2 separate regions of the Homo sapiens genome follow, and region 1 is linked to region 2. Evidence: fine-mapped expression QTL. A gene starts in region 2. The other region holds a variant in brackets. All regions are shown on one strand. Distances are from middle to middle.

The links. PIP is the estimated chance that this variant, and not a neighbour inherited with it, causes the effect.
Region 1: its variant is fine-mapped to the expression of AKAP7 in skin (TwinsUK, PIP 0.90).

Annotation. Positions count from the first base shown.
Region 1 is chr6:131,107,242-131,124,581 of GRCh38, reverse strand. All of the region lies in intron 2 of LOC102723445 (a long non-coding RNA gene), which reads left to right. Among named protein-coding and RNA genes, the nearest start is that of AKAP7, 20 kb to the left of the region's middle. The variant TG/G (reference allele first, on the strand shown) is at 10,330.
Region 2 is chr6:131,125,537-131,138,709 of GRCh38, reverse strand. AKAP7 (A-kinase anchoring protein 7) reads right to left here and starts at 3,243. Exons shown (of 8, transcript NM_016377.4): 1 at 2,928-3,243. The coding sequence starts at 2,946. It overlaps LOC102723445 (a long non-coding RNA gene), which reads left to right and starts at 8,349. Exons shown (of 4, transcript XR_428022.3): 1 at 8,349-8,695; 2 at 8,797-8,973. RefSeq lists enhancers at 2,616-2,675, 3,112-3,612 and silencers at 2,936-3,045, 3,196-3,285.

The sequences.
Region 1 (17,340 bases), 16 kb after region 2:
CATTCCAGGGTTGTGAAGACAGGACTGTGCAGGTAGATGCTAAAGAGAGTGGGTCTACCAGTTTGGCTGGTTTGAGTGACGGAGGACTGGGAGACAAGGCTGGAAAATTTGGTTGGGACCAGATTATGGAAAGTCTTAAATGCCAGGCTAGGCAAATGGGACTTTATTACATCAGAATTGGAATTTGTTCAAGAACTCTGACCTTGGAACTGACATGATGAAGGATAACTCTGGAAAGACACATCTTTCAGGTCTGTGCAGGATTTATTGGAGGGGACAGAGAATCAAAGCCCCAAGCCCAGTTAGTTCACTGCCATACTACAATAATCCAAGTATAAGGGACAGAAATCTAAACAACAGTGTTGGCCTAGAAATGAAATAAAAGTGATAGAGTTAAGAGTTTGCAAGACAATAGTAAGTGAAACTCAGCAATTGATAATGTGGAGAAAGAGAAAGAGTTGGCTGATGCCAGAACATTAGAAGCAGAGTGAATTGGGTATTCCCAGAGAAGCCCAGAACAAAGAGGATGAGGAGTGGAAGAATGGAGAGAGGGGTGAGAGCGGAGTGAGCAGGATGGCGGACAGTGTGTGCTGAGGAGTGGGATCCTTCCCTGGATCTCACATACCTTCAATAAAGTCAATAATTAAGTTCACCACTCTTAGTTGTGAATGATTTTGTTCTGGAAACCAAGGAGATGGCTGAGAAACACAGAGCACACGAGGACCCCCTGTGCCTAGAGGCTGAAAGAGTCCTGTGATTATAAACCCCTAAGAATTGGCAGAAATCTTAGGGAGGGGCTAGACTTTCACATGCCATCAGAATTTGAGTCCCTTTAACTAGATCTTCAGAGGTGGGAGTGACATTGAGCTAAATTCTATTTAAATCCTAAAAAGGAACCAGTAAAGAGAGACAGAAAAGGAAAAACACTGGCTGGGCGCGGTGGCTCATGCCTATAATCCCAGCACTTTGGGAGGCCGAGGCGGGTGGATCATTCAAAGTCGGGAGTTCGAGACCAGCCTAACCAACATGGTGAAACCCCATCTCTACTAAAAACTCCACCAGGCATGGTGGCACGCACCTGTAGTCCTGGCTGCTTGAGAGGCTGAGGCAGGAGAATTGCTTGAACCCAGGAAGTAGAGGTTGTAGTGAGCTGAGATCGCACCACTATACACCAGCCTGGGTGATGAAGTGAGATTCTGTCAAAAAAAAAACCAAAAAAACCAAAACTGAATAATGGGGGTGAGAGCTATAGAGTCTGTTCAAATGAAGGCAGTGATCTCACACAGGATGGAAGCAAGTTAAGGAAAGATGGGTCCTGGTAAGTATTTGGATGGGTCGTGATTAAGGGAACTACTTTCTAAAGATGTCAATTTGCTTGATGGAAATAAGTGAAGTCATTTGCTGGGAGGAGAGGAAGACACTGAGGAAGGACTCTTGGCAATTTGGAAGTTATAGGTGTACAAGTGATCATTGAAACTATGGATGTGGATGAGGTCACCGAGAGAGGGTATATAAAGTTAGAAAATTAGAGGGCTGCAGACGGAAGACCTTCACTATCTTTGCGATTAGAATCTGAATTTTTTTTTTTTACATTTTGTCAGCTGCCTGAATTATTACATACTTAATGCATTTCTTCTTTTCTGGCCAAGAATAAGAAATAAACACTGTTGAGGACATTTACATCCAGAACATTGATTCTTTTTCTTCAGTTAAAATAAAAGAGATCATTTACTTATTACGAGGTATACTCTAGCTTGTATTATTTACTCAGAAGATAATGATGTCTTATATTGTGGATTTTGAGATAATCTCTATTTTTATACACTGAAGTAGTTAGTGTTCCTGACCACATTTTGAGCAAATGCCAGATTGGCAGATTAGGCTTAACAGCTCTAATTAGGCTTCCTGAATTTGATTAGTGCTAGGGATTAGTTTCTTCTTTGATAGTTTATTTCACAAGATTTCTTAGTTTGAAACTGTGTTTTGCTGACTATTTTTGGTATCATATACATCATATAAACCATCATTATACATTCCAATAGACCATTCTTCATTGATGATTTGTTGTTGTTATTCCCTGGTAAGATTTTCTGAATACTAAAAGGAAAATATTAAGAGCGATATCAAATTTCACTTTCTGGGTCATCAGGGCTCTATATTACTATTTGTTGGTTTCATTATCTTCCTAACGTGCCGGAAATTATTGATGCAGTTTATGTTCAAACTTCTCATTGTTCATTCTAAAATGTGTGTTACAATTGTTTTTTCAGGAAGATATTAACATAGATTATAGTAATAGGATATTAATATCTGGGCTAGCAGATTTTACATCTTATTCAACTTAGTCATCTCATTGCTTATTTGGCATAAGTATTCCTCGTTTTTTAGTTGTGCAATTGATATTTAAAACAGGCATCATACAAGCCTTAACTGGCAATGCTAATCTTATTTGCATTCCAATTAGAGTATAATTGACAATTACACTATGAGGTTTTCTTTGAATATTGTAAGAATTAGAAGATACAAGAAGTGGAAAAAGTAGTAAAACTTTAAGAGTACTAGAGAGAAATAGAATCAGAGTGGGAGGAAATTTGAGTCTATTTTCCCTTACACAGTAAAATATTTCCTTACAGATGGTCATCTATTTGAATACATGGTCCAACTAAAAGCTCTTTGTCTAAATATTGTGTGGTTTCAAACGGCAAATATCTTCATTGTCTATTGATTGATCTAGTAATATAGTGAAAGACAAAATAATTATAGCCAACCAAACTGCAAAAATTCCTTTACTATAAAGTATTAGCTACAAGGCAGGCATGGTGGCTCATGCCTGTAATCCTAGCACTTTGAGGGGCAAAGGCAAGTGGATCCCTTGAGCCCAGGGGTTCAAGACCAGCCTGGGCAACATGACAAATCCCATCTCTACAAAAAGTGCAAAAATTAGCCAGGCGTGGTGGTGTGCACCTGTAGTCCCAGCTACTTAGGAGGCCGAGGTGGGAGAATCTCCTGAGCCCAGGGAGGTGGAGGCTGCAGTGAACTATGGTTGAGCCACGGCACTCCAGCCCAAGTGACAGAGTAAGACTCTATTTCAAAAAAAAAAAAAAGAAAGAAAATATTAATTACCCAAGGTCCTCTGATTTTTTTCATTCTTTTATCACTTCAGAGTAACAGTAAATTTTATAGACATAATTTATATATATATAAACCATATATAATACTATGCCACTTTTAATTAATATCTTTCAAATATCTCTCTCAAATAGGTATTTTATATATATAATAATTTGTATTATATTATAATGCCTTATTGTGTTAATATGCAATCATTTGTTTAACCAGTCCCCAAATCTTGAGCATTTCCAGTAGAATCCACTTACAAATATCCTTGGATTTTTTTCTCTTTCATTTGTATCATTTTCTTGATCCATATACCAAAAGTAAATTTATCAAATTAAGAGGAATGTTCCATTTTATGGGGTTTTGGGGGTTTTTTGTTTGTTTATTTTTGTTGGTTTTTTTTTTGCGTAGGTAAAATATGGTAGTCATATGATGACAATCTATACAGCAATTACAGAGGATGGACTGATCTACATTAACTAACATGCACAGATCTCAAAAACATCATTAAGCAAAGCAAACAAATTGCTAAACAATTCAATATACCATTTGCATTAAACACACTATTTCCAATGAGTTCATATATGTATGTAAAAATATTAAAGTCTAAATGGAAGTATAACAAACATAACAGCCATTAAGAGGGGAAGGGACAGGAATGGGGAGTGGTTGGTAGCTGAATGACAGTATCTTTATAACAACCTAGTTTCTCAAAAGGATAATGAATTCATGCATTGCTTGGGTAATTAGAATGGATTTAACTTTTAAAACAAAAAAGCTGGCTGGGCACGGTGGCTCATGCCTATAATCCCAGCACTTTGGGAGGCCAAGGTGGGTGGATCATGAGGTCCAGAGATCGAGACCATCCTGGCCAACATGGTGAAAACCCGTCTCTACTAAAAATACAAAAATTTGCCTGGCATGGTGGCACATGCCTGTAATCCCAGCTACTCAGGAGGCTGAGGCAGGAGAATTGTTGAACCCAGGAGGTGGAGGTTGTAGTGAACCGAGATCACGCCACTGCTCTCCAGCCTGGCGACAGAGTGAGACTCTGTCTCAAAAAAAAAAAAAGCAAAAAAGCCATATACAGATTTGAATAAAAGAGTGATGGTGTTCATGAATGAGTGAAGGCTGAGCTCATCGCACCAGGCTTTGCTGCCTCTGCATGACCCTTGTAGCTAATGAGGTTAGTTCCTAAAAGGAATCTCACACGTGTTAGGCTGGGATGTGGCCCAGCATACCTCTCCCCTATTTCCTCACAACCCAGATTGGTGCTCAGCCACCCGGTTACCATACATGATTGAAGCTACAGGCTTCCTCAGGCGCTCCACTTACCAAGTAGACCTCATCAGGGCCCTGAAACTTTTATTTTTTTACTTTATTTTATTTTATTGTATTTTTTAAGAATAATAAGTAGCATAAAAAGCATCTGCTTCCCCAAAGCCCTTACTACACTGGGTTTATTATTTACTTGATGTTTTCTAAATCATCAGCAGTGCTGACATTTTTCTATTGGTCAAATATTTATCAAATGCCTAATAAATTCCCAAAAACTCACTGTGTCTTGTAAATAGGCATCATTTGTTCAAGGGGCAGCATGGCGAAGTGGTTAAGGGTATCACTTTGAAAGCCGGATTTCTATCTGTGAAAAGCTTTAGAGGCAGGCCTCCCATACTATTACAGTTTCCTGTAAAATTAAGTATGAGCTCTTCAGCTGTGGATCTGAGGCCTGCCACAATTCATTTCTACACACTTTTTTTTTCTCATTGATAATTATTCTCTAACATCTTTCAAATGGATCAAATTAATAATTTTTTGTTCCCTAACTATCTTTGAAAACGATGTCCAACAACTATATTGTAGTGTATGATACTCACTTCACCTAAAATGCCTTCTGTATCACCTGAAGGAAAAGTTTCAGTCTTTCCTTTTATGACCATCTCATATATCCCCTTCATCTGATCTTTCCAACCAAATAAGGATACTTTCTACTCTGAAAACTTCCTCTGCTTTATTTTTACCTCTTTTGGGGTGATTAAAATATTTTAGCTTTCATTATAAATAATTCTCTTACGAGATAGTTAACACTTTAAGGGAGTCTAACACTTTGCTTAGCACATAGGACAGATTTGATTTTTTTTCCAAAATAAATGATGAATTGACTGATCCATGTTCACACACCGAGGCCTCATTTCATCTGTGCTAAAAATGTGAAGTAGCAAATCCAGGAAATTTCCAGATAATTAAAAAAATTAATTGATTTTCTAGCAATTTCCTGACCAAAGCCTTGAAGAAACTACACTTCTTTTTTTTTTTCTTTTTTCTTTTTTTTTTTTTTGAGACACAGTCTGGCTCTGTTGCCCAGGCTGGAGTGCAGTGGCACAATTTTGGCTCACTGCAACCTTTGCCTCCTGGGTTCAAGGGATTCTCGTGTCTCGGCCTCCAGAGTAGCTGGGACTACAAGTGTGTGCACCACACCTAGCTAATTTTTTATAGTTTTAGTAGAGACAGAGTTTTGCCATGTTGGCCAGGCTGGTCTCGAACTCCTGATCTCAGGTGATCCACCCGTCTCGGCCTCCCAAAGTGCTGGGATTACAGGTGTAAGCCACCATTCCCAGCCTTCTCTTTTTTCTTAATCAATATTTGCCTCATTTTCTCTGTGGAAATGTGACTTTCATAGATCCCAGGGTTGAATCTCAAAGTGTTTGCCCCCAAGACCTTGATGTAATCGGACAAAAGGAAGAAACGCATCATTGGCTTCATTCCACTGTCTGGAGGGCTTAGCACTTTATATCCCTCAACCCTGGCCTCTGGTGTACTCTCCACAATTACTGGGCTCTTGTTTGTTGACCCCTCTCCAATGTATTTGACTTATTTTGGATTGATTGCGTCCCCCCTGCAACCCCTTCATTCCATTTTTTCTCCTCTTCTAATTTGGAAGTGATATTCTCTATGTTGATTGTTTTAAAGGAGTTATCCTAAATAATTAACAGGCATACTTAAAAAAATCTAAAGTTAATGTCTTTACCTTCTCCCCAAATAACACAAGGACCTTCAAAAATTTTAACTTCGACTACTGCCCTGAATTATATGCTGTTATAATCTCTCTTCTCTCTGACAATTGTTAAAAATCATCTCTTTATCTTTGGAGCTTTATAGTTTTAGCAATCTAAGCATGAATTTATTTTACTTATTCTGCTTGAAAACATTGGGCTTCCTGATTCTGAAAACTGGTATCTCTCAAAAGTTTAGAAAAAGCACCCATTTGCTATTTTATTATTGTCTATTTCCCCATAATCTTTTTCTTTCCTTCTTCCAGAACTCTAATTATGTTACGAAGTCTGACTTTGTCCTCAATTCCCTTTAGACTCTCTATACAATAGTTCCCCCTTCTCTGTGGTTTCACTTTCCATGTTCAGTTACTCACAGAACAGTACAATATATCTTAATATTTTGAAAGAGGCGAGGTGTGATGGCTCACACCTGTAATCCCAGCACTTTGGGAGGTTGAGGCAGGCGCATCACTTGAGGTAAGGAGTTCAAGACCAGCCTGGCCAACATAGTGAAATCTTTTCTCTACCAAAAACACAAAAATTAGCTGGGTGTGGTGGCATATGCCTATAATCCCAGCTACTTGGGAGGCTGAGGCATGAGAATCACTTGAACCCTAGAGGCAGAAGTTGCAGTGAGCCCAGATTGTGCCACTGCACTCCAGCCTGGGCAACAGAGTGAGATTCTGTCTCAAAAACCAAGAAAAAAAAGATATTTTGAAAGAGAGGGAAAGACCACATTCACATAATTTTTATTATAGTATATTGTTACAATTGTTCTGTTTTATTTTTAGTTATTGGTGTTAATCTCTTACTGTGCCCAATTTATAAATTAAACTTTATCATAGGTACATATGTATAGGAAAAAACAGTCTTATATATGTAAGATTTAGTACTATTTGCAGTTTCAGGCTTCCACTGGGGGGTCTTAGAACATATTCCCCTCAGATAAAGGGGGACTACTGTATTTTCCAACTCTTTGTTTCTCTGAGCGTAATTTTAAACAAGCCCATTAAATGTTTCCTCCAGTTCACTAATCCTTTCTTCAGCTTTGTCTAATATGCTATTTCTCCAGCTTTTGAATTTTGAACTTCAGGTATTATATTTTTCATTCCTAGGCCATCCATTTGGTTCTTTTTCAAATCTACTTGAATTTTTTCTAGTCTATTGTTCCTGTTTGCAGGTTTTTACTTCTTTAAACATACTAACCACATTATTTTCTAGTCTATATTTGATCATTCTAATATCTGAAATCTTTGCATATTTTATTATAATAACCTTTCTGGCTTTCTTTCTGGTTCATACTTACATTACCTTTATTTCTTATATGTTTTGTGTTTTTTTTTTTTCATTGTGAGCTTGTATTCGATCTTTATCTGAGGAAATTCTTTGAAGCCTGGTTTGAAGTTGCATTCCTCCAAAAAGAATATCGTTTTATTTGTGTCACCAGGGGGCACTATTAACCTGGAACAACTTAAATTCCTTACTTGGCGTTTCATACTACATTGGTAGGGTTGCCAAATAGAATACAGGGCATCCAGTTATGTTTACATTTCAAATAAACAAGAAATTATTTTTTGTGCAATATTTGGGACATACTTATACTAAAAAGTATTCATTGTTTATCTGAATTCAAGTTTAACTACGGATGCTCTATTTTTATTTGCTAAATTTTGCAGCGCTATGCATCACTAGCTTGAATCTGGCTTTAGACCCACATAAGCACTTGGTTGAGTTTATGAATTCTCAGAGAATTTTTTTTCCTCTTCTCCCAGGGCAAAAGTTGAGAGAGGCAAGTTTTCAATGTCTTCTTCTTTAGATAGACATATTTCTTGCTCACTTGTATACTGAGAGTGTTGCCATTAGAAACTTAGCTCTATGCAGGGATCACCTATTAGATTCCTCACCATAGGCCGATCTGTTATCCTCTGCATACCATTTCTCAAAATGTAAATTCAAGGTCCCTTAGGTTGACCCTTAGGGTGAAAACGTGCCTCAGAAATCATTTACCTTTCAGGAGTCTTTTCTTTTCTTTTTTTCTTTGTTGTTGTTTCCATAGATTCCTTACAGTTTTGCCTGCTATATAAAAGCATTTAACATATTATTTATATAGTATATTCAGTACTTGGAGGTTTTTTCAGGCGGCCAGTAGGAGAGAAGGTATTGGGAGTGGGGCCATTCAGAGTATCTCAAATGCTATTCCATCAGAACTAGATATCCTTCAATCCATTCCTGCTGAATCTGCCTTCTGGTATTCTTGGTGTCTCCTTGAAGTTACAGTGTTCCACAACAGTACGTGGGTCTATTCCAGAGTAGTTAGTATCGTGTGTCTTTGCTTTCATACTCTGCAAAAACTGGTGATCTCTCCAGTGACAGAGTACAAGACCTTGCTCTAAGCTCAATCTAATGACTTGGGCATGGTACCACATTAATTTCCTACCAGTGCTCTTTCTCTGAGGCTAGAATCTAGTTCCCTGTGACCTAAATTCTTGGGGAGTTCTACAGTGTATTAATCTAATGCTGCCACCACCACTACCTCAATACCTCAGCATGTCTTCTGAGTTAGTCCTCAGGAATCCCATTCAAACTGGTGTGTCTTAACTACAGTTTCTGGAAACACACCTAAGATTCCACATGGGATTAGCCTTAGATTAGTTTTTTAGTTTCTTTTAGGAAGATCAGTTTTCAGATCAGGATTAGATTCCACTGGGCAACTCTACCTTCATGGGTGAGTGACTAGCAGCTTCTTCCTCGTCCCTATCAGTCCCAGTGTCAGAGGTTTAGTTTGTCTTTCTTCCAGGCCCACCCAGCACAATACACCTTCAGTGGTGTGCTAGAGCTGGCTTATACCAGATTGCAAGAGTCAACTTTTAAACTTTCAGGAATCTTGAGTGCTGGTTATTAAGTCCAGCTATTATTAAAAATTAAATTAGGGAGACATAATCAAATAAATTATATTTAAAACAATGGTAACTATAAAACTCTTAGAAGAAAACATAGGAGTTAATCTCTCTGCTTTGGATTAGGCAATGATTTTTTAAATACGACATGACATCAAAAGTGCAAACCACAAAAGAAAAATTAAATAGGCCGGGCGCAATGGCTCATGCCTATAATCCCAGCACTTTGGGAGGCTGAGGTGGGCAGATTACTTCAGGTCGGGAGTTCGAGACCAGCCTGACCAACATGGAGAAACCCCACCTCTACTAAAAATACAAAAATTAGCTCGGTATGGTGGCGCATGCCTGTAATCCCAGCTACTCAGGAGGCTGAAGCAGGAGAATCGCCTGAACCCAGGAGGTGGAGATTGCAGTGAGCCGAGATTGCGCCATTGCACTCCAGCCTAGGCAACAAAAGCAAAACTCCATCTCAAAAAAATATAACTAAAACTAAAATAAATACATAAATCAAAATTTAAAAGTTTCATGCTTCAAAGGACACTATCAAGAAAGTGAAAGTACAGCCGATATAATGGGAGAAAATATTTGCAAATCATACAAGGGCCTTCAAAAAGTTCATGGAAAATGCATATTATGAAAACATTATGCATGGATTTCAAGTTGTTTTTGCACCAAAATAAACTCATACTAACTTGTTATAAAATATCTGAAGAGGATCTACATTGGGACACTAAGAAGGCTAAGACATCAGTTTGAAAAGAGCTTCTATCAGAGCAATATGACTTCTGCTAAAATTGAAGCAAGAATAAACATCAAATTTATGGTGAAATTTTGGTGAGAGAATGGTGAAATCATTAATGATTTACAAAAAGTTAACGAGAACAATTTCCCAAAGAAATCAGCAGTTTACAAATGGATAACTTGGTTTAAGAAGGGATGAGACAATTTTAAAGAAAAAGCCTACAGTGGGAGACCATCACATCAATTTTCAAGGAAAAAAATTAATCTTGCTCTTGCCCTATCTGAAGAGGATTGACAAATAACAGCAGAAACAATATCAATACCATAGGCATCTCAATTGGTTCAGCTTACATGCTCCTGATTGAAAAATTAAAGTTGAGGGCTCAGTGGCTCATGCCTATAATCAAAGTGCTTTGGAAGCCCGAGTGGAAGCATTGTTTGAGGCCAGGAGCTTGAGACCAACTTGGGCAACATGGTGAGAACTCATTGCTACAAAAACAATTTTTTTTTTTTTTTTTTTT[TG/G]AGACGGAGCCTCCCTCTGTCACCCAGGCTGGAGTGCAGTGCGCAATCTTGGCTCACTGCAATCTCTGCCTCCTGGGTTCAAGCGATTCTCCTGCCTCAGCCCCCTGAGTAGCTGGGATTACATGTGCCTGCCACCACACCTGGCTATTTTTTTTGTTTTTTGTGTTTTTAGGAGAGATGGGGTTTCACCATATTGTCCAGGCTGGTCTCGAACCCCTGACCTCAAGTGATCCACCCGTCTCAGCCTCCCAAAGTGCTGGGATTACAGGCGTAAGCCACCACACCCGGACAATCTCCTACTGGCTTTTATTAGTTGTACGTCTTTATGCTGTTTTTACCCAGTCTAAATTTTACAGATAAAACTTGTCTGAGTTCAGTGGCTTACACCTATAATCCCAGCACTTTAGGAGGCCAAGATGGGCGGATCACTTGAGGTCAGGAGTTCAAGACCAGCCTGGCCAACATGGTGAAACCCCGTCTCTACTAAAAATACAAAAAAAAATTTAGCTGGGGGTGGTGTCAGCGACCTGTAATCCCAGCTACTCAGGAGGCTGAGGCAGGAGAATTCCTTGAACCTGGGAGGCAGAGGTTGCAGTGAGCCCAGATCACACCACTGCACTCTAGCCTGAGCAACAGAGTGAGACTCCGTCTCAAAAAAAAAAAATAATAAAATTAGCTAGGTGTTGTAGCACACACCTATAGTCCCAGCTACTCTGGAGGCTGAGGTAAGAGGATTACTGGAGCCCAGGAGGTTGAGATTACAGAGAGCTAAGATTGTACCACTGCACTCCAGCCTGGGTAACAGCGTGAGACCCTGTCTCTATAACTAAACAAAGCAAAACAAAAAAGCCTTTAAAAGGCATCCATTTTTCTTCAGTTAATAATGTAAGAAAAACTACATTGACATAGTTAAATTCTCAGGAATCTCAATTATTTAGAGATGGACTAAATAAGTGGCTGGTGTTTTGGCTTCCAAAAGTGTCTTGACTTTGATGGAGCTGATGTTGAGAAATAATGTTTATATTTATCATTTTTATCTTTTAATTCCATTTTTCCACGAACTTTTTATTTTTATTTTTTTTGAGACGGAGTCTTGCTTTGTCACCCAAGCTGGAGTGCAGTGGCGCGATCTCAGCTCACTGCAAGCTCCACCTCCCGGGTTCACACCATTCTGCCTCAGCCTCCCGAGTAGCTGGGACTACAGGCACTCACCACCATGCCCGGCAAATTTTTGTATTTTTAGTAGAGACGGAGTTTCACCATGTTAGCCAAGATGGTCTCGATCTCCTGACCTTGTGATCTGCCCGCCTCGGCCTCCGAAAGTGCTGGGATTACAGGCGTGAGCCACTGTGCCCGGCTCCACGAACTTTTTGAAGTCCCCTTTTATATCTGATAGAAACGTATATCCAGGATGTATATAAAAACCTCCTATAATTCAATAATAATACAAAATCCGATTAAAAAACAGATAAAGGATTTTGGGTACAGTGGCTCATGCTTGTAGTCCCAACATTTTGGGAGGCTGAGGCAGGCAGATAACCTGACATCAGAAGTTCGAGACCAGCCTGCATGGTGAAACCCCGTCTCTACTAAAAATACAAAAATTAGCTCAGCATGATGACATGCACTTGTAGTCCCAGGTACTCAGGGGGTTGAGGCAGGAGAATCACTTGAACACCGAGTGGCAGGCACTAGGTTGGCTATAATTTTAAAAGACAGACAATAAAAAATGCTGGCAAGGGTGTGGGGAAATTAGAAATGTCCAGTATAGCAAATCCACAGGGACAGAAAGTAGATAGGTGTTTGCCTAGGGCTGGGAGAGGGGTGTGGCTGCTAAGGGTTATGGGGTTTTATCTTTGGAATGATGAAAATGTTCTGAAATTAGATTGTGGTGATGGCTGCAAAACTCTATATAAATATTCTAAAAACTATTGAACTGTATACTTTAAATGGATGATCTGTGTGGTGTATGAATTGTATCTCCATAAGCTGTTAATTTAAAAAATGTAATAAATATGCAAACATATCACTTTCTAATTATTTTACAACATTTTACTATTGTCTAAACTCCTGAGGTTATTTACCGAAAGATGATGCCCAAGTGGCCCCAGGACATAGAATCAAATTGTGTATGATATTAAAACAACAAGAATTGTTTATCTCAACTAATATCTTGTTTATATCTTTGTAACAGACAGCCAGATGGTAGTGAGTGCTAATACTGTGTACTAATCCTTTAGGAGGACTAGTTTGCTTGAGGTTTAGACACAAACAGGAATGATCTGTGCCATTATAAGAAATATAATGATGTCATGAAGGGCTTTATGATAAATAAAATGATTAGAATATGGTATTAAAAATATGTAGCCATTTATCCTATTGCATTTCATCAAGAAATATTAAATATTATAAAAAATGCAAAAATGAATTTTCTCATTCTTGCAAGCAGTCAAGTCTCAGCCGGAAAAATGGAAGTCAATTTAAATATTTAAAGATAAAAGGCTTTAATTTACAGAGAATTAGGTATAGGTACTGTACTTATAAATTTTTGCAAGGGCATAAGGAATGAAAGTCGGAGGAGCTGCCACCAGCTTTCACATTCACAGTCCAAAGAATCTGAAACTTCTTGCTTTCATGCAGAAGTCAGGAGGATGTAAGAGACTGAAATCAATAGTCATGATTGCCCTGAAGTCCTGGGGTGAACGACACAAGGGAATATAGAAGTTGCTGCAAAAAGTCACAACTTCGGGCGGGGTACAATGGCTCACATCTGTAATCCCAGCAATTTGGGAGGCTTGAGGTGGTACGATTGCTTGAGGTTAGGAGGTCGAGTCCACAGTGAGCTATGGTGGTCCCACTGCACTCCAGTCTGGGTGATGGAGTGAGACCCTGTCCCCCCCCCAAAAAAAATAGTTACATCTTCTTAAGTCCACATGTCAACCAACACAATTGAAGAAAGAGGAATGGATTCTGTCTTCTGCCTTGTAATTTAAGCACAAGTACACCTCATGGGCAGAATCTAAACTGTATTTGGTTTACAGGGACTATGAAAAGACAGTTCTCATTCATCAGCCCCTGACATGAAGGGGTGAGTATCAAAGGAAATAGAAATAGTGCTGAGTACCAACAAATCATATATGACTTATTTCCCTCAAGGGTAGTCAGGTAATTTTTTGAGACTGTATATAGCATGAGTTTGGGGTTGTTCTTATTGATAGGGGATGCAAGTTGCAGAAATTTAGTTTTTCCCTGAGATAACATCTTGACATGTCTCGAACCATTAGATTCCTAGACAGTTTACCAAGTTGGCAGGCCCTGAAGTTTGTTGGGAGATTATTTTCCACCTTCTATCACACATATAAATATATATGTGTGAAATATATATATATATAAGAATGTGAATTCCTCTCACTTGGTCCAGTCATCATTATGTCACTAATGTAGTGGGCCAGTGTGAAGCCCTACAGGATGACAGGACTATCAAAGTTCCTAAGGGCTAGATTAAGACTGAGAGCTAGAGACTTGGCATAGCTCTGAGACAGGACTATTGTGTACTGCTTACACTTCTGTGTAAATGTAAGGGGCTCCTGTGATCTTTACTTATTGGTATAGAATGGGAGTCAGAAGACTAGAGTCTGCAGACTGGACATTTGTTTTGTAAGTAAAGTTTCTTTGGAACACAGCCATGCCCATTCATTTACATATTGTTCGTGGCTGCTTTCACCCTACCATAGCATATTGAGTAGTTGGGACAAAAACCTTTACAGACCAGCCAAAATATTGCCCTCAAACTCAAGATAAACAGAAATAAAACAAAGTCTTAAATTTAAATCTAAAACAAAACCATGGCCCCTTTATGAAAAACATGGGCTAAAATGTATTAATAATGGTTAAAACCAAGTGCTTTTTTTTTTGAGAGATTTGCAATAATTAATACCTATTTAAGTGGGTTTTCCCCCTAGGTCTTTATATTCTAGTATAAAACAGCCAGAGCTGGGCTGTTCTCTTAACCTCTGATCAAATAAGCCTGTTTAGAAAAATCTATGTGTTTTGCTTATATCATTGGGCAAAGTAATTTGTAATATATGATTGACATAATAAATCATCACTTCTAATAAAGCACATTTTTAGAAAAATAAAATTTCTGTGCACCTGTTTTAAAAAGCTCCAGTGCACTTTCCAGCTCAGTCAGAATCCTCATTTGGAATTAACTGGGGGTCCCTGGTTCCTGCTGAAGTTACATATTGACCTGAATGAAACAGGCTGGCCTCCAGCATAGACTCCAAGCTCTGTGTTTATTGAGTCAAGAGTAAGGATCTTCTCTCTCTTAAATCTAGTGGTGGGCAGGGAGAGGACAGGGGCCAAAGATAATTGACTGACCTTTTAATTTATATTGCCATTTGCAGACACTTTTCTTGTATTTTTGAATTCTTATTTTGTCACAATAATTTGAAATTATATAATGCTTCCTAGGTTAGTGAGCATTTTCAGAAACATCATTTGATATCCATATCAACTCAGAAAGTATTTTCTTCTCACATGTCATAGATGAAGTTCAGAAATAGTCAGTAAATCATCCAGGTTCACAGAAAACAAGACCAAAAGTTACTAATACTCACCAAGCATCCATTAGATGGCAGGCACCATCTCAAGCCAGAACTCATATCTTGACTTTTAGACTCTGTATTAGTCCGTTCTCACACTGCTATAAAAATAATATCTGAGACTGGGTAATTTATGAAGAAAGAATTTTCATTGACTCACAGTTCCCCATGGCTGGAGAAGCCTCAGGAAACTTATGATCATGGCAGAAGGGGAAGCAGTCACCTTCTTCAGAAGGCAGCAGGAGAGTGAGTGCAGAAAAAACTGTCACCTTTAAAACCATCAGATCTCGTGATAACTCCTTCACTATCTTGAGAACAGCATGGGGGAAACTGCCCCCGTGATCCAAACACCTCCCACCAGGTACACCTCCCTCCACATGTAGGGATTACCATGCGAGATGAGATTTGAGTGGGGACACAGAGCCAAACCACATCAGACCCCAAGTCTAATATGGTCTGAATGTTTGTGTCTCCCAAAAATTCATGTGTTGAAACCTGATGTCCAATGTGATAGTATTAAGAGTTGGTGTCTTTGAGAGGTGATTAGGTGCCATCTATGAGAAAGCAGGCTCTCACCAGACACCCACTGAATCTGCCAGCACCTTGATCTTGGACTCCCTACCTCTAGACTGTGAGAAAAAAAAAAACCAACTGTTATTTACAGTACCCAGTTATGTACTCAGTTATAAATAGGTCAGTTTATTGTATTTAGTTATAGCAGCCTAAATGGATTAAACAAAGTTTAATATTCTTACTATCACAATGTATTAATTCCCATTCTAGTGAGTACTGGGGATAGTAGTGATGGTGGTAACTTTTAAACATACAAAAATATGTCAAACACTACCCCTCAAACTGAGAATAAGATGACTAGGAGAAAGGAGACATAACTATCAAACTTTAAGGCAAATGCTGTGTATAAAGTTATTGAATGAATGGTTTTAAAAGTATTCTTATACTACTGCATGAAGAATTAAGCTGAAGAGCAAGAAGAACTTTTTTCTTTCTTTCTTTCTTTCTTTCTTTCTTTCTTTCTTTCTTTTTTCTTTCTTTCTTTCTTTCTTTCTTTCTTTTGAGATGGGGTCTCGCTCTGATATGGTTTGGCTGTGTCCCCACTGAAATCTCAATTCGAGTTGTATCTCCCAGAATTCCGACACGTTGTAGGAGGGACTTAGTGGGAGGTAATTGAATCATGGGGGCTGATTTTTCCTGTGCTATTCTTGTGATAGTGAATAAGTCTCATGAGATCTGATGGGCTTATCAGGGGTTTCTGCTTTTGCTTCTTCCTCATTTTTCTCTTGTTGCCAATGTAAGAAGTGCCTTTCACCTCTCACCGTGATTCTGAGGCCTCCCCAGTCATGTGGAACTGTAAGTCCAATTAGACCTCTTTCTGTTCCCAGTTTCAGGTATGTCTTTATCAGCAGCATGAAAACAAACTAATACACACTGTCACCCAGGCTGGACTGCAGTGGTGCAAACATGACTCACTGCAGCCTACACCTCATGGGTTCTAGCGATTCTCCTGCCTCAGCCTCCCAAGTAGCTGGGACTGCAGGCACACATCACCAAGCCCAGCAAATGTTTGCATTTTTTGTAGAGACGAGGTTACGCCATGTTGCCCAGGCTGGTTTTGAACTCCTGAGCTCAGGCAATCTACCTGCCTCAGCCTCCCAAAGTGCTGGGATTATAGGTGTGAGCCACGGTGTCCAGCCTTCAGAAATTTTTAAGAGTTTAGTTGTGATATTCTGAAATATCTAAGCCCAGGAAGTTGTGTCTCTGGATAATTATTAAGTTTTTGTTTGTTTGTTTTGTTTTGTTTTGTTTTTTGAGATGGAGTCTCACTCTGTCACCCAGGCTGGAGTGCAGTGTCATGATCTCGGCTCACTGCAACCTCCACCTCCTGGGGTTCAAGCTATTCTCCTGCCTCAGCCTCCCAAGTAGCTGGGACTACAGGTGCACACCACCACGCCCAGCTAATTTTTGTATTTTTAGTAGAACGGGGGCTTTACCATGTTGGCCAGGCTAGTCTTGAACCCCTGACCTCAGATGATCCACCCACCTCAGCCTCCCAAAGTGCTGGGATTACAGGCATGAGCCACTGCACCTGGCCTAATTATTACTATTAAAGAGCAAACTTATCTTTTGGGAATGATTCCAGCGTAGTCCTGCTTAAAGTCAGCAGCTGCATGAAATGTTTCCCTTCCAGTTCTGTTATTCTATGATACTCCCTCTAGGAAGAGGGTGTTTTTCCCTCCACTTTATCTCCTATACAGTCATTGTGAAAGACTTTGTAATCTCAGATAAGAATATGCTTTTTGAAGTATGTGTCATCAAGCTCTGTGCAAATGTGAGGCAGAAACAAGTATGCTTTTCCTTGGCTTCTTGCTGAGGTCACACACTACCAGA
Region 2 (13,173 bases):
GGGTAAAACTAGTGGGTCTTGGGGCTGGAACTGGAATCCAGTCACTCTATTACCATTATGCCCTTTCTGGCACCACACACTGCCACCTTATTATACACTGACTATAGCAATGTAAACGGAGGCAATCCTTTCAGAAAGCAATCTGGCAATAGACCAGAAGCCACAGAAATATTCTTCCGATGTTCTTCTTACTGCTCTCTGGTTATCTATCATCCATGCTCAAAGATTCACCACAGCTTTATTTAAACAAAAAAGGAAAAGTGGAACAAAACTTAAATGCCTAATAACAAGGAAATGGTACAATAGCCAAGATTTGGAAGCAATTTAAGTGTTGGATAACTAAGGTTATCCAATGGAAAAAGGAAATATGGTACATATATACAATGGAGTACTATTCAGCCATACAAAAGAATAAGATCCTGTCATTTGCAACATGGATGGAACTGGAGATCCTTATGTTAAGTGAAATAAGCCAGGCATAGAAAAACAAACTTTCTATGTTCTCACTTATTTGTGGGAACTAAAATTAAAACATTTGAACTCATGGAGATAGAGAATAGAAGAATGGTTACCAGAGGCTGGGGAGGGTGGTGGAACGGGTGGGGGGAACATGGATGGTGACTGGGTACAATGAAATAGAAACAATGAAAAAAATAGGGAAACAGTTAAACGAAGCATGCTCGCGACAATGACAACTACGAACAATGACTATGAAGAATGCAATGACAGAAAAAAGCTAACAACAAATGCCAAGTTTTTAGAAAGGAGATATAAAATTGCATATGCTCTATGATTTACAATTATGTGGCCAAAGGCTAAACAGTATAAACTGCTTGTAAATGCTGACAACTATATTGAATATATTCATGTTTCTCATTTCTGCTATTCAAACGTTTCAAAATTGAATATTACCTAAGAAAAACAATACATACATTTTAAGTATATTATAAAACCATACCTTTAAATATATGCAAATATTCAAATACAGGTGAAGCAAATGCCTTCATCAAAAACAGGCCAACAGGGTGGGCCGGGTGAGGTGGCTCACACCTGTAATCCCAGCACTTTGGGAGGCCGAGGCAGGTAGATCACGAAGTCAGGAGATAGAGACCATCCTCACTAACACGGTGAAACCCCATCTCTACTAAAAATACAAAAAATTAGCCGGGCGTGGTGGCACACACCTATAGTCCCAGCTACTCGGGAGGCTGAGGCAGGGGAATCGCTTGAAGCTGGGAGGCGGAGGTTGCAGTGAGCCGAGATTGTGCCACTGCACTCCAGCCTGGGCGACAGAGCGAGACTCTTGCCTCTAAAAAAAAAAAAAAGAGAGAGAAAAGGGTATGGAGAGTTCTCCCACTGTCACACAAAATGCAGGTTTCCTAACTGGATAATAAATGACTACTCAATTTTGTGAAGTAAGTCTCTCATCACTCTACTAGGTAAATAGTAAATTTATCCCAGCTGAGCAAGTTGGCTCACACGTGTAATCCCAGCACTCAGAGAAGGACTGCTTGAGCCCAGGAGTTCAAGCCTTGGTGACATGGCAAGACCCCGTCTCTACAAAAAAAAAAATACAAAAATTAGTCAGGCATGTTGGCACAGACCTGTAGTCCCCGCTACTTGGGGAGGCTGAAACAGGAGGTTGGCATGATCCCAGCCGATCTAGGCTGCAGTGAGCCATGATCGCGCCAGTGCACTTCCACCTGAGCCAACAGAGGAAGACCCTGTCTCTAAATACATATATACATATATACATACATACATAAGTACATACATAAATAAGTTTATTCCTAAGAACAACTGGAAAGGGCTAAGGGCATCCATTCTAGTCCTGGCTTAGCTACTAAAAATAGTATTAGCATCTTACACGTTAGTAAATGTTGACAGCTGCGTAGAAATCAACAAGTTACTTGACCTCCAGGCTTTCCTTTCCTCCTCATAAAAAGGGAACAAAAGTAAAATCCAAATTATTAGGGAGAAATGGACAAAACAAGTTAATAGTGTCCGAAAATGGATGAAAGGAGGAAGTAACCTCCACAAACATCTTAAACTTTATGAGTAAGGAAAATATACAGATATGCTAACAGGATCCTGAATTGCAAAGCCACGGCACTTAAACAAGGAACTGGAGTATGGCTCTTTTCTCCTTAACAATTTCCATTCCCATGCATTTCCTAAATGCAAAAACTCACTGTCATCATTCACTTAACAATTGTCAACATATTCACACGATTAACTGCTATTTATATAGTACACTTTAACGTTTTTATGCTTTTTATACTCTTCTATGAGTTTATCCTATGAAACTCTTGCAGAGGAGCACCTTTTCTCTAATTGGTTTGCGGACCCTTTTACCGAAAGTCCACCCCTAACTCGCTCTATCACAAAGTTCAGTTCACAACAAACGCTGACCTAAACTGGAAATTCATTCCGGGCGCTAGTGTAGACTTGGCGCCAGTTTTAAAAGCGGTCATGTCCAAACCTGGCAGAAAATCCTAAATGAGACAGTATGGTGGTTCGGGTGCTTAATATTTGTGATATAAGATAAAATCGAAATTTTACTAGGTTTTGTTTACATTTACCCACATCAACACCGTCGGAAGGAATGTGTACTGGCATGAACTTTGTGCAAAGGGTCACAGGATGAGAAAGGGAGAAAGAAAAGTGAAACTCGGGGATGGGCTCATACCCCCGCCTCCTGTCGGACCCACAATGCGTGCATTAAAACGCTTCGCTACAGGCAGCACTGATGTACACCCCGGTTGCACCGGGCTTCTCGGTGCTACCCTGAGTCCTTTTGGGAAGGAGGGAGACTCGGAGAAGGGCCGGCGCGGGTCAGGCCCTCCCAAAGTTCGAGCGCAGAGCAGGCCCAGGCCCCCGCGGCTCCTGTCGCCCCCGCCCCGGCCCGCTGGACAGCCCGGTCTCACCCGCTTCGGGGCGCTCCATGGTCGCGGCGCATGCGGGCGGCGCGTCTGGGCTGGCGGCAGCGGCGGTGGCGGGCCGCGTCCCGGGGCTGGAGGCGAGGCCGAGGCGGAGGCCAGGGCGGGGCTCGGGGCCTGAGGGCGGTGCGCTGGGCCGGCGCGGGGTCCAGCGACAGGCTGCGGGGGCCCGGGCGGCGGAGGCCAGGCCTGCGGAAGCGCGGAGCTTCCCAAGCCGCAGCCCCCGCGGCAGCGGCAGCAGCGGCGGCGGCAGCCGCAGCAGCCGCAGCACCCGCATGCCAGGCCGGACGCCGGAACAAGCCAGAAGGGGCCGACCCGAGTCGCCGGTGGTACCCGGATTCGGGCGAGAGGCGCGGACGCGCTCGGGCAGGGCGGGGGAAACTAGGGCCGGCGACTGCGGCGTCACGGCAGCCCAGGTCGTCTCGACTCTGCAATGCGACGCTGGGTCTTCGCCTGCCTGCCGAGCCCCGCGGCCTCCGACGGCCTTTGGCAGCCCTCATTTATTTCCCGTGGCGCAGCCTTGCCCCTCCCACGCTTTCAAGGGCGAGATTGGGACTAGGATGAAAGAATTCTCTGGCCTGGTGTCTTTTGAGAATCCATGTGCTTAGTTTTGCAATCAGGGTTCTGATTGCAGAATATTTGGGAAGAGCGAAATGTACAAGAACGAGACCTTGTACTTCTGTATAATGAGATACTTTATTTACCTTACTTTTAAAAACTGCAAATTGTGACAAAGTCTCTAATTTTTAACAATGATGTTATGTTTAGACATTAAGAGGAAACCAGTTGCTGGTTCTTGTAGTATAAGGTACTGCAGTGAGTAAATTGGGAGAAAAAGAAATTTACTTAGTTTAAAAAAATAAAAACCTTTCACTTGAAACGGAATGCTATTGGGATTGGTTTTAGTGCGAAGAAACCAGGGGTTAAGAACATTAGGTGCATCCGTCCACAAATTAGCGCCTTTCGTGAATAATAACACTTCGCTTATGTTGAATGCATCGTAGAATAGGGATGGAAGAAAAGAAGACCCCTACACAGCCACAACAGCTGGCGTAAAGGCTGCACACTAGAAGTCGGCAAACTAGTTACTCTGATTTTCAAATAATTCTAACACGTTGAGTTTCTGATGCCCATTTATGGGCTGGTAGGAAAGTACAACCAGTTCCCCTAATATTTATTTAATGCTTGAGCTCTGTGCTGAGGATGTGCAGGTAAGACAGGTCTTTTACTTATGGAGCTGATCATATAATAGCAGAGAAAGAAACATAAGTAACTGCGGAAATAAAAGCTGCAAAAATGTGGTCCACATTCATAGTGAAGAGGATGAGAATATGCCACCCCAAATATGCCACTTCAGCATAAGGATTATTCTTGAGCTTAAAACAGTTCAGAAACTAAAGACTCAGGAACAACTTTGACCTCCCCCTTTCTGCCTAAAAGCAGGACATAAATTTCCCTTCGTAAAGGTGACATAAATTTTTATTTTTAAAGCTTTACCAGGCCGGGCCCAGTGGCTCACGCTTGTAACCCCAACACTTTGGGAGGTCAAGGCGAGTGGATCACTTGAGTCCAGGAGTTTGAAACCAGCCTGGGCAACATAGCAAAACCCTGTCTCTACCAAAAATACAAAAATTAACCAGACGTGGTGACCCATGCCTGTAATCCCAGCTACTCCAGAGGCTGAGGTGGGAGGATCGCTGGAGCCCAGGAGGTGGAGGTTGCAGTGAGCTGAGATGATGCCATTGCACTCCAGTGTGGACAACAGAGCCAGATCCTGTCTCAAACAAACAAACAAACAACAAAGCTTTACCACTCACCCATACCAGAAAGAGGAGAATGAGTCTTACCTGCATAACAAACCCATACATTTTCTAGTAACCTTCCCATACTGCAAAAAGGCTAAGCCCCCTTTTCCTTTGTCTAGCCTCTCCACACTTTATCATCGTTAAAATGGTATAGAAGCCCCCAGTTCTAACTGCCTCTTCGGGCTTTTAGTTCTTTCCTGTGAAGCATCTATGTGCATGTGTAATAATCCTTTTCTCGTCTTAATCTGTCTTTTGTCAATTTAATTTACACAGTCCAACCTAGTGAACTAAATGGGCAGGAGAAAGATTTTTCTTCCCCTGTGGTGTGTACCAAGAGATATATGGAAGTTTCATTCTCTTACCTAAGCAGAGGTAACAGCCCAAATGCCACATATTTTTCACCACCAGTATTATGAATACAGAGTCTTATCAACACCTACCATGTGGAGGAACATTTTAATTACCCAAGTCTGAAAAAGGAATTTTTCACAGAGCTTCTTTTAGAAATGACAGGGAGAAAGGGAAGTACAAGGTGAACCTTGGACATCTTCTTGTGCCAAAAAGCAAAGACAAATGGGGACTATCAAAAACACAAGGACTAGCGAGAAACAGCTTTCTTTGAGCAAATGGGAGATAATCTGACATCATAAAAGGATAACACCTGTAATTATTGTAACATACTGAATACAAAATCTATATACCCATAATAATACTCAAAAAATGAGGAAGAAAAACTAGTAGGCCACCATTAAAGGTGACAAGTACGCAATTCCTTAGTCTCCTTACTCTAAAAATTAAAGGGAAAGAAAGATTTACCATGACTTTTTAGAAGTAGTAGTATGGGAAAGCTGCTTTGCACAGAAGAATTTTCAATAATAAATATAGGAGACATAAAATAATTGGAAAATTACCATTTTGCCACCACAACTGATAACTGATTGATGCAAAGATCATCAATATATTCTAAAACCATTACATGAAAGGTTAATGTGGACCGAAATATTTATAAGTTGCCAAAATACTACCCCCCACAAAATACTTGGTAATTGCTCAGGAGAGAACATATTTTTACTCCATGTAAATAAACCTGGTTGTCACCACCTTTATCGTGATTAAACTCAGCATCATTAATGGTGGACAATCTGTGAAAGCTCCTGTGAAAGCTATATCATCACTGCAAGGTAGTCTTGCCATAAATATTTCACCTGAAGCTGCTAAGGCTTTAAATATAATTTTCAGATTTCCAGAAATACAGGAGATAGAGGTACAAGTAAAATAACATGATGAGGAAAGAATCAGACCAATCCAGAATGTGTGACATTCTAGAAAATAATTGGCTCAGGCTTTTCAAAATCTCGGTGGGGTGTTGTGGTCCAGGAACAGTGTGGTAGCTTAAAACTAAACCCTTCCAATCCAGTTGTTTTGGCACTGTGCCAGTGTATATTGTCCTCTGGGGAGAAAAGGGCTGTGTACTAATAGTCAGGGAGGAATGGGCAGAACATACGGAGGGAGAGGGAAGTGTGGACCAGAGGATCCATGCCCTCATGAGTCGTGCTGCAGGTGAACCTTCGTTAAAGCATTGGGCAACCTGGTTCTTTTTTGCTTTCATAAAACAAATTAATACCTATGAATTCATCTTTTTTTTTTTTTTCTGAGACGGAATCTCGCTCTGTCGCCCAGGCTGGAGTGCGGTGGCGCAATCTCGGCTCACTGCAAGCTCCGCCTCCCGGGTTCCCGCCATTCTCCCTGCTCTACTTCCCGAGTAGATGGGACCACAGGCGCCCGCCACCACGCCCGGCTAATTTTTTGTATTTTTTAGTAGAGACGGGGTTTCACTATGTTAGCCAAGATGGTCTCGATCTCCTGACCTCATGATCCGCCCGCCTCGGCCTCCCAAAGTGCTGGGATTACAGTTGTGACCCACCGCGCCTGGCCGAATTTATCTATTTAATTGATTTTCAATATTAACTGGTTCTGTCAATAACCAAACATCCTATAGGGATTTTTAAGATTTTTAAGCCTCTATGTCAGTTTGCCGATTATCTCTAACCTTAACTCATTCTCAGCACCATTTAGCAGTTATTAAATAGAGTTTGTTTCCCACATCAGTACATTGAACTGTCCTACTGCTGTCACAGGGGACCGCAGCTATGGTCAAGATCAGTAGGAACTGTCAGTGACCTCCTTTGGGGAACAGTCCCTGACCCCACCCTTCTACTTGGGTTAGGTACTCCACCTGAGGGCTTTAATACTCCTTGTGCCCGCTCTGACCATCCCTTTTGCCACATTTTTCTGTTTCATACATTAGACTTTACGCCACTAGAAGGCAAAGACTATGTTTTAAAGTCTTCGTATTCCCAAATGCATAGAGATTTCTCAATGAATAGACATTCAATGAATGAATAAAACTTTTATAAGCATCCAGATCCATTAAGTACTCAGATTTGTCAAAAAATAAAGCAGCACTCCCAGATAAATTTCAAAAAAAAAAAAAAAAAGAAAGAAAGAGAAACAATATCACGGGTAATCTTAATGTCCTACAGTTTTGTTGGCAAACAGCCTGTTGCGTGGCAAGAGTGGCGCCATCTTGAAGCAAAACCTCCATGAAGAGCAATGTCTGGCTCCTGCATGCAAAGGTGTTCTGCAGCAAGGTTTTTAAACCAAGCATCTAGCATAGACAACCCCTCATAAAGATGCTTATCTGACCTCCCCAGTGGTCATAAGTTTGAGATGGGACCAACTGCCCAAGTCTTAGAATACTTTCTGGAGGGTGGATGCGAGGATGTGTAATCTCATGGCCTCTGGAGAGTCACTTTGGTTCATAAGACCCTGTTAAATATTTCTTTCTGAAAAACTGGATTTGTCAGTCACTTTCTTCAGCCTCTCAGCTCCCACAACCCTTCAGGATAGGTTTGCATATACCTGCTCACGCCTGAACAAGCTTCTCCAGCTTAAGGCTAAAAATTAGCCAACATTAACTTTAACATCTAAATGTTTTTTCTTTTTTAAAAATTTTTTAATTTCTATTTTTTTCTTTTTTTCCCTGCAAAGCCAACTGCAAGTATAACATTAACATCTAAATCTTAATAGCTAAATGAACCTACCAACTCATGCCAAGACGCCAGTCCTTTGTGAAATTCCTCCAAAATACTTTTGGGTTTCCAAGTGGTGTCTGGCAAAACTAATCTAATGAATCATTCTAAGCTACCACCTGTTCCCAGCCCTTGCTTCACTGAGTTCCATTTGTCCAATCTTGACTCCGGAAAGTCCTCTGCCCTCGCGCACATCAGCTGCCTGCTAATTCACCTGGCCACAGTGGATTCTCCCAGTCTTCATGGTGACATCTCTTGCAAATGAAAAGAACAAGGTCAGCTGGGCACAGTGGCTCACGCTTGTAATCCCAGCACTTTGGAAGGCCGAAGCGGGTGGACAACCTGAGGTCAGGAGTTTGATACCAGCCTGACCAACATGGCAAAACCCTGTCTCTACTAACAATACAAAATTAGCCAGGCGTGGCGGCACATGCCTGTAATTCCAGCTACTCAGGAGGCTGGAGCAGAGAATCGCTCGAACTCAGGAGGCAGAGGTTGCAGAGGTGCAGTGAGCCAAGATTGTGCCTGGGCAACAAGAGTGAAACTCCATCTCAAAAAAAGAGAAAAGAACAACTTCTCCCTACACATTACACTCTGCTAAGAGTAGAGCAGGTTGAGCTGCATCACAGAAGATTTTTGGGACCTATAAGAATTACAGAATTCCTTGAGATACAGCAAGTTTCTTTACAGACACTGCCCCATTTCCCCCAGAGGGCAAGGTACAATGATTGCTGAAATAATTGGATGGGAAGTGTTCAGGTTCAGATTGCCACACTGTTCCTGAAACATGACCCATTTCTGACTTTCAGGAACTACTACTAAATTGACTCATTCACCCTGCCCGACTCCTTTCTTTATGGTGAGTTCTCTCTTCAGGTCCCTCATTTCTCTTCTGTGATACGGTCCTGACCTAGTGAATTTCTACCAAAACAATTGACTCTGTTTTAATTCTTGCCCTAGGATGTTCCTTGGTCCCCATAGAAACTAAAGTTGCAAATGGTTACAAAAAAGGATGACATCATGCAGTTCTACAAGACACGGCCAAATATCAGTACAAAGCTAACTGGGACCCTTGGTGACCCAAGGTAACTCGGGGTGACATTTCATTTTGCTGGAAGAAGAATATGTGTTTAACATGTAAGCTTTTCAATTAATGTTTGAGTATAATATTTTTAAGAAAGCACTACACCTATTTAATAATAGACTTATTTCAGTAGTCAGACACAGTTGAAGGGCCTGATAATATTTAATAACAGAATGCAACATTTTAAATTATTTTAAATATTTCTAACTACAAATCTAAAATTTTATGTAAGTAACATGTTGTTTTATGATATTTTTAAATTCAGAAAAACTTATGGAATAAAATGTAAAATTATCTATAATTGTATCTTTTTAGACATAGATATACATACACATATAAACACATACTCCTGCAGCATATATTTTATAAAAATGAAATCATGTCACATTATGGCATCATAAGCTACTTTTGTCTTTTACAAGATATTGTGACTAATTTCTCATGTCATTAAGCATTCTTCTATATTTTATATTATTCTTTCAATCATGCATTTTTTTTTTTTTTTGACAGAGTCTTGCTCTGTCACCCAGGCTAGAGTGCAGTGGCATGATCTTGGCTCACTGCAACTTCCGCCTCTCGGGTTCAAGCAATTCTCCTGCCTCAGCCTCCCTGGTAGCTGGGACTACAGTCACCTGACACCACACCTGGCTAATTTTTGTATTTTTAGTAGAGACCAAATTTCACCATGTTGGCTAGGCTGGTCCCGAACTCCTGACCTCAAGTGATCCACCCACCTCGGCCTCCCAAAGTGCTGGGATTACAGGCGTGAGCCACCGCACCCAGCTCAATCATGCATATTATATCCTTATATAAATATATCATAATGTATTTGACCAATTGCCAATGTCATTGTTCAACCTCATTTAAATTCATCTCAGTTTTTCTGTGTTAAAAATAATTCTATGATAAGTACATTTTTCTGTAATTAGTTTAAATTTTTTAATTATTTCCTTTTTTTTTTTTTTTTGAGATGGAGTTTCACTCTTTTTGCCCAGGTTGGAGTGCAATGGCATGATCTCAGCTCACTGCAACCTCCATCTCCTGGGTTCAAATGAGTCTCCTGCCTCAGCTTCCTGAGTAGCTGGGATTACAGGCACACGCCACCACGCCTGGCTAATTTTGTATTCTTAGTAGAGATGGGGTTTCGCCATGTTAGCCAGGCTGATCTCAAACTTCTGACCTCAGGGGATCCGCCTGCCTTGGCCTCCCAAAGCTCTGGGATTTACAGATGTGAGCCACCACACCCAGCCTTAAATTATTTATTTAAAATAAATTCCCAGAAGGAGGTGTGATAGGTAATAGATTCTAAATTATTACAAGCCTTTTGAAATGTGTTGCCAAATTATCCACCAAAAACTTCATGCAAATCTATATGCTTATAAGCAGTTCATGAAAGTTTATTATCCATCCCACTAACCCTCATTTTCTATTTACAATGTTCAAATGGCTGTTATTTTACCTCTTATTTCTTTTATTATTAATAAATCTGCATATTATTTCATGTGTTTCGTAACCACTTGCACACCTCTCTTTATAAAAAGCTTCTGCTTATTTTTCTTCTAAATCGTTTACCTTTTTCTACTACTTTATAAAATCCATTATTTTATTATATTTTTAACTTTTATTTTAGGTTCAGGGGTACATGTGCAGGTTTTTATATAGGTAAACGCATGTCACGGGAGCTTGGTGTACATATAATTTTGCCACCTTGATAGGAGGCTAGTTACTTTTTCCGATCCTCTCCCTGCGTCCACCCTCCACACTCAAATAGTCCCCAGTGTCTGTTGTTTCCTTCTTTGTGTCCACTTGTTCTCATTATTTAGCTCCCACTTACAAGTGAGAACATGCAGTATTTGGTTTTCTGTTCCTGTGTTAGTTTGCTAAGGATAATGGCCTCCAGCTCCATCCATATTCCTGCAAAGGACATGATTTCATTCTTTATTATGGTTGCATAGTATTCCATGGTGTATAGGTACTATATTTTCTTTATGCAGTCTACTGTTGATGGGCATTTAGGGTGATTCTATGTCTTTGCTATTGTGAATAGTGCTGCAATGAATATATATGTGTGCATGTCTTTCTGGTAGAATGAAAATCGATTACTTTAAATACTTTGTCATATATACTGAAAACATTTCCCCTAGTTTGTTATTTGTATTTTAATTCGTATATAGAAGTTTATAATGTGCAGAATTTGAAAATTTGTATGTAGTCTTATGTATTAATTTTCCTTAGTGGTTTTATTTCTTTGCTCTAATGATTTAAATGTTTTCCTTTCATTCCCTTTCATTTAAATGTTTCCTTTCCTCTATGGATTGTTTATAGTGGCTTCTACTTCTTTACTTCTGAACTTATTTGGTTGTATCTTATGAGATAGGGACTTTTTCTCTAAAGAAATCAAATGTCCAAGTGCCATCATGACATACAACCTATGGTCAAGGACTTCAAGGTCTGGGACCAGATGCAGTGGCTTAGGCATGTAATCCCAGCACTTTGGGAGGCCAAGGTGGGCAGATGACTTGAGGTCAGGAGTTAGAGACCAGCCTGGCCAACATCTCTACTAAAAATACAAAAAAATTAACCGGTCATGGTAGCATATGCCTGTAATCCCAGCTACTCAGGAGGCTAAGGCAGGAAAATCGCTTGCATCCAGGAGGCAGAGGTTACAGTGAGCCGAGATCGCGCCACTGCACTCCAGCCTGGGAGACAGAGCCAGACTCTGTCTCAAAAAAACAAAAAAAAAACAAAGCAAAATGAAACAAAAGAACTTCCAGGTCTATTTTCCCCACAAATCTACCTGCCCTGTCTCTTTTTCTCAGGTCATACTTTTCATCAGTCAATCTCACAAACTAAACTATGCTCATGTACTAAGTCCCAGTGAATTATTTTGGCAAAAATAATGGCAGGAAAACACTCTGTACACCTGATATGCAGGCAGCCACTTAGCCATTAAATTACTCCGATTTCTCTTTGTTCAAACCTCAGTTCTGGTCCTTGTAACCACACCATGAGCAGGGAAGGCTAATGGAGCAGCAGAGGGAGACAAGACGCATGAATATGGAGTTCCCTAGGATTCAGGTAGTGTGGCCCATTCACGCCACGAGCATTTAATTCTAAGTATATTAATGTATGCTGCTTCTTTCCCCTGCTTCTCCATGAGGGCAGGGATTTTATAGTCTCCATCCAAAGTCTAGTATGCAGGAGTTTCTAAATAAATGTTTATTGAGTTAGTTATTTAATGAACTTTCTAGAGATTGAACCTAATCTTAAAGAGTCAACTCTAATGGAAGCCAAGGATGGAGATTTTGGAGGTTTGAAGGCCTTTTGGCTGTTGTTTTTGCCTGCTCATAAATCTAATAATACCTGTGGACATTTACTTCTAGCATCATAAACTTGTTACATTTGTGGATATCGACTCAACATTTGCATCGCTAATTCATTCCTCAAGCATTACCCATGAAATGAAGGAATATTGTAATTAGTAATTCTTGGTACCCTGCCTATTTTCAATAAAAGGAAAAAGAAAAAAGTAAGCAAGAAAGAAAAGACAGCCAGCATATTCAATTACAGTATTGTCACATGTAAATAATCTGAGCAACCAAAAATAAGCCATAAATGTGTTTACCAAGATAAATTATTATAAATGATCTCAAGCCTCAAATTTGTCCAGAAATATAACTTATTTATTAAAGTGACTACTTATTTAATAACACAATGCCAATTGGAGAGAGGACACCTTCATGGCAGACAGAACATTTTTCTAAAATCATGTCATGTAGAAAATTATCCTAATGCCACATAGCCTCCAAGTCCACTGCCAGACAAGCTATCACAGAGATCATGGAAATGAAAGACTTCAAGACCAAATTAAACTGTTCACATCAACAGTTTATTAAATCAACTTAAAACACATAGCGAGAAAAGGGGGAAACAAGCAGCATACATTAATATACTTAGGATTGGATGTTCGTGGCATGAATGGGCCACACTACCTGAATCCTGAGGAACTCCATATTCATCCATCTTGTCTCCCTCTGCTGCTTCATTAGCCTTCCCTGCTGGTGGTGTGGTTACAAGGACCAGAATTCAGGTTTGAACAAAGGGTTCCATATATTTAAGGCTGCCTAAGCCACTTGCTGTATTGGAAGGATGCAAGGACAAGTACATCTGGCCACAGGGGCCTCATATATATGCAATGACTCATGATTATTAGGCATTTCTTTATCATTCCATCCCTTTTAACATGCATCTAC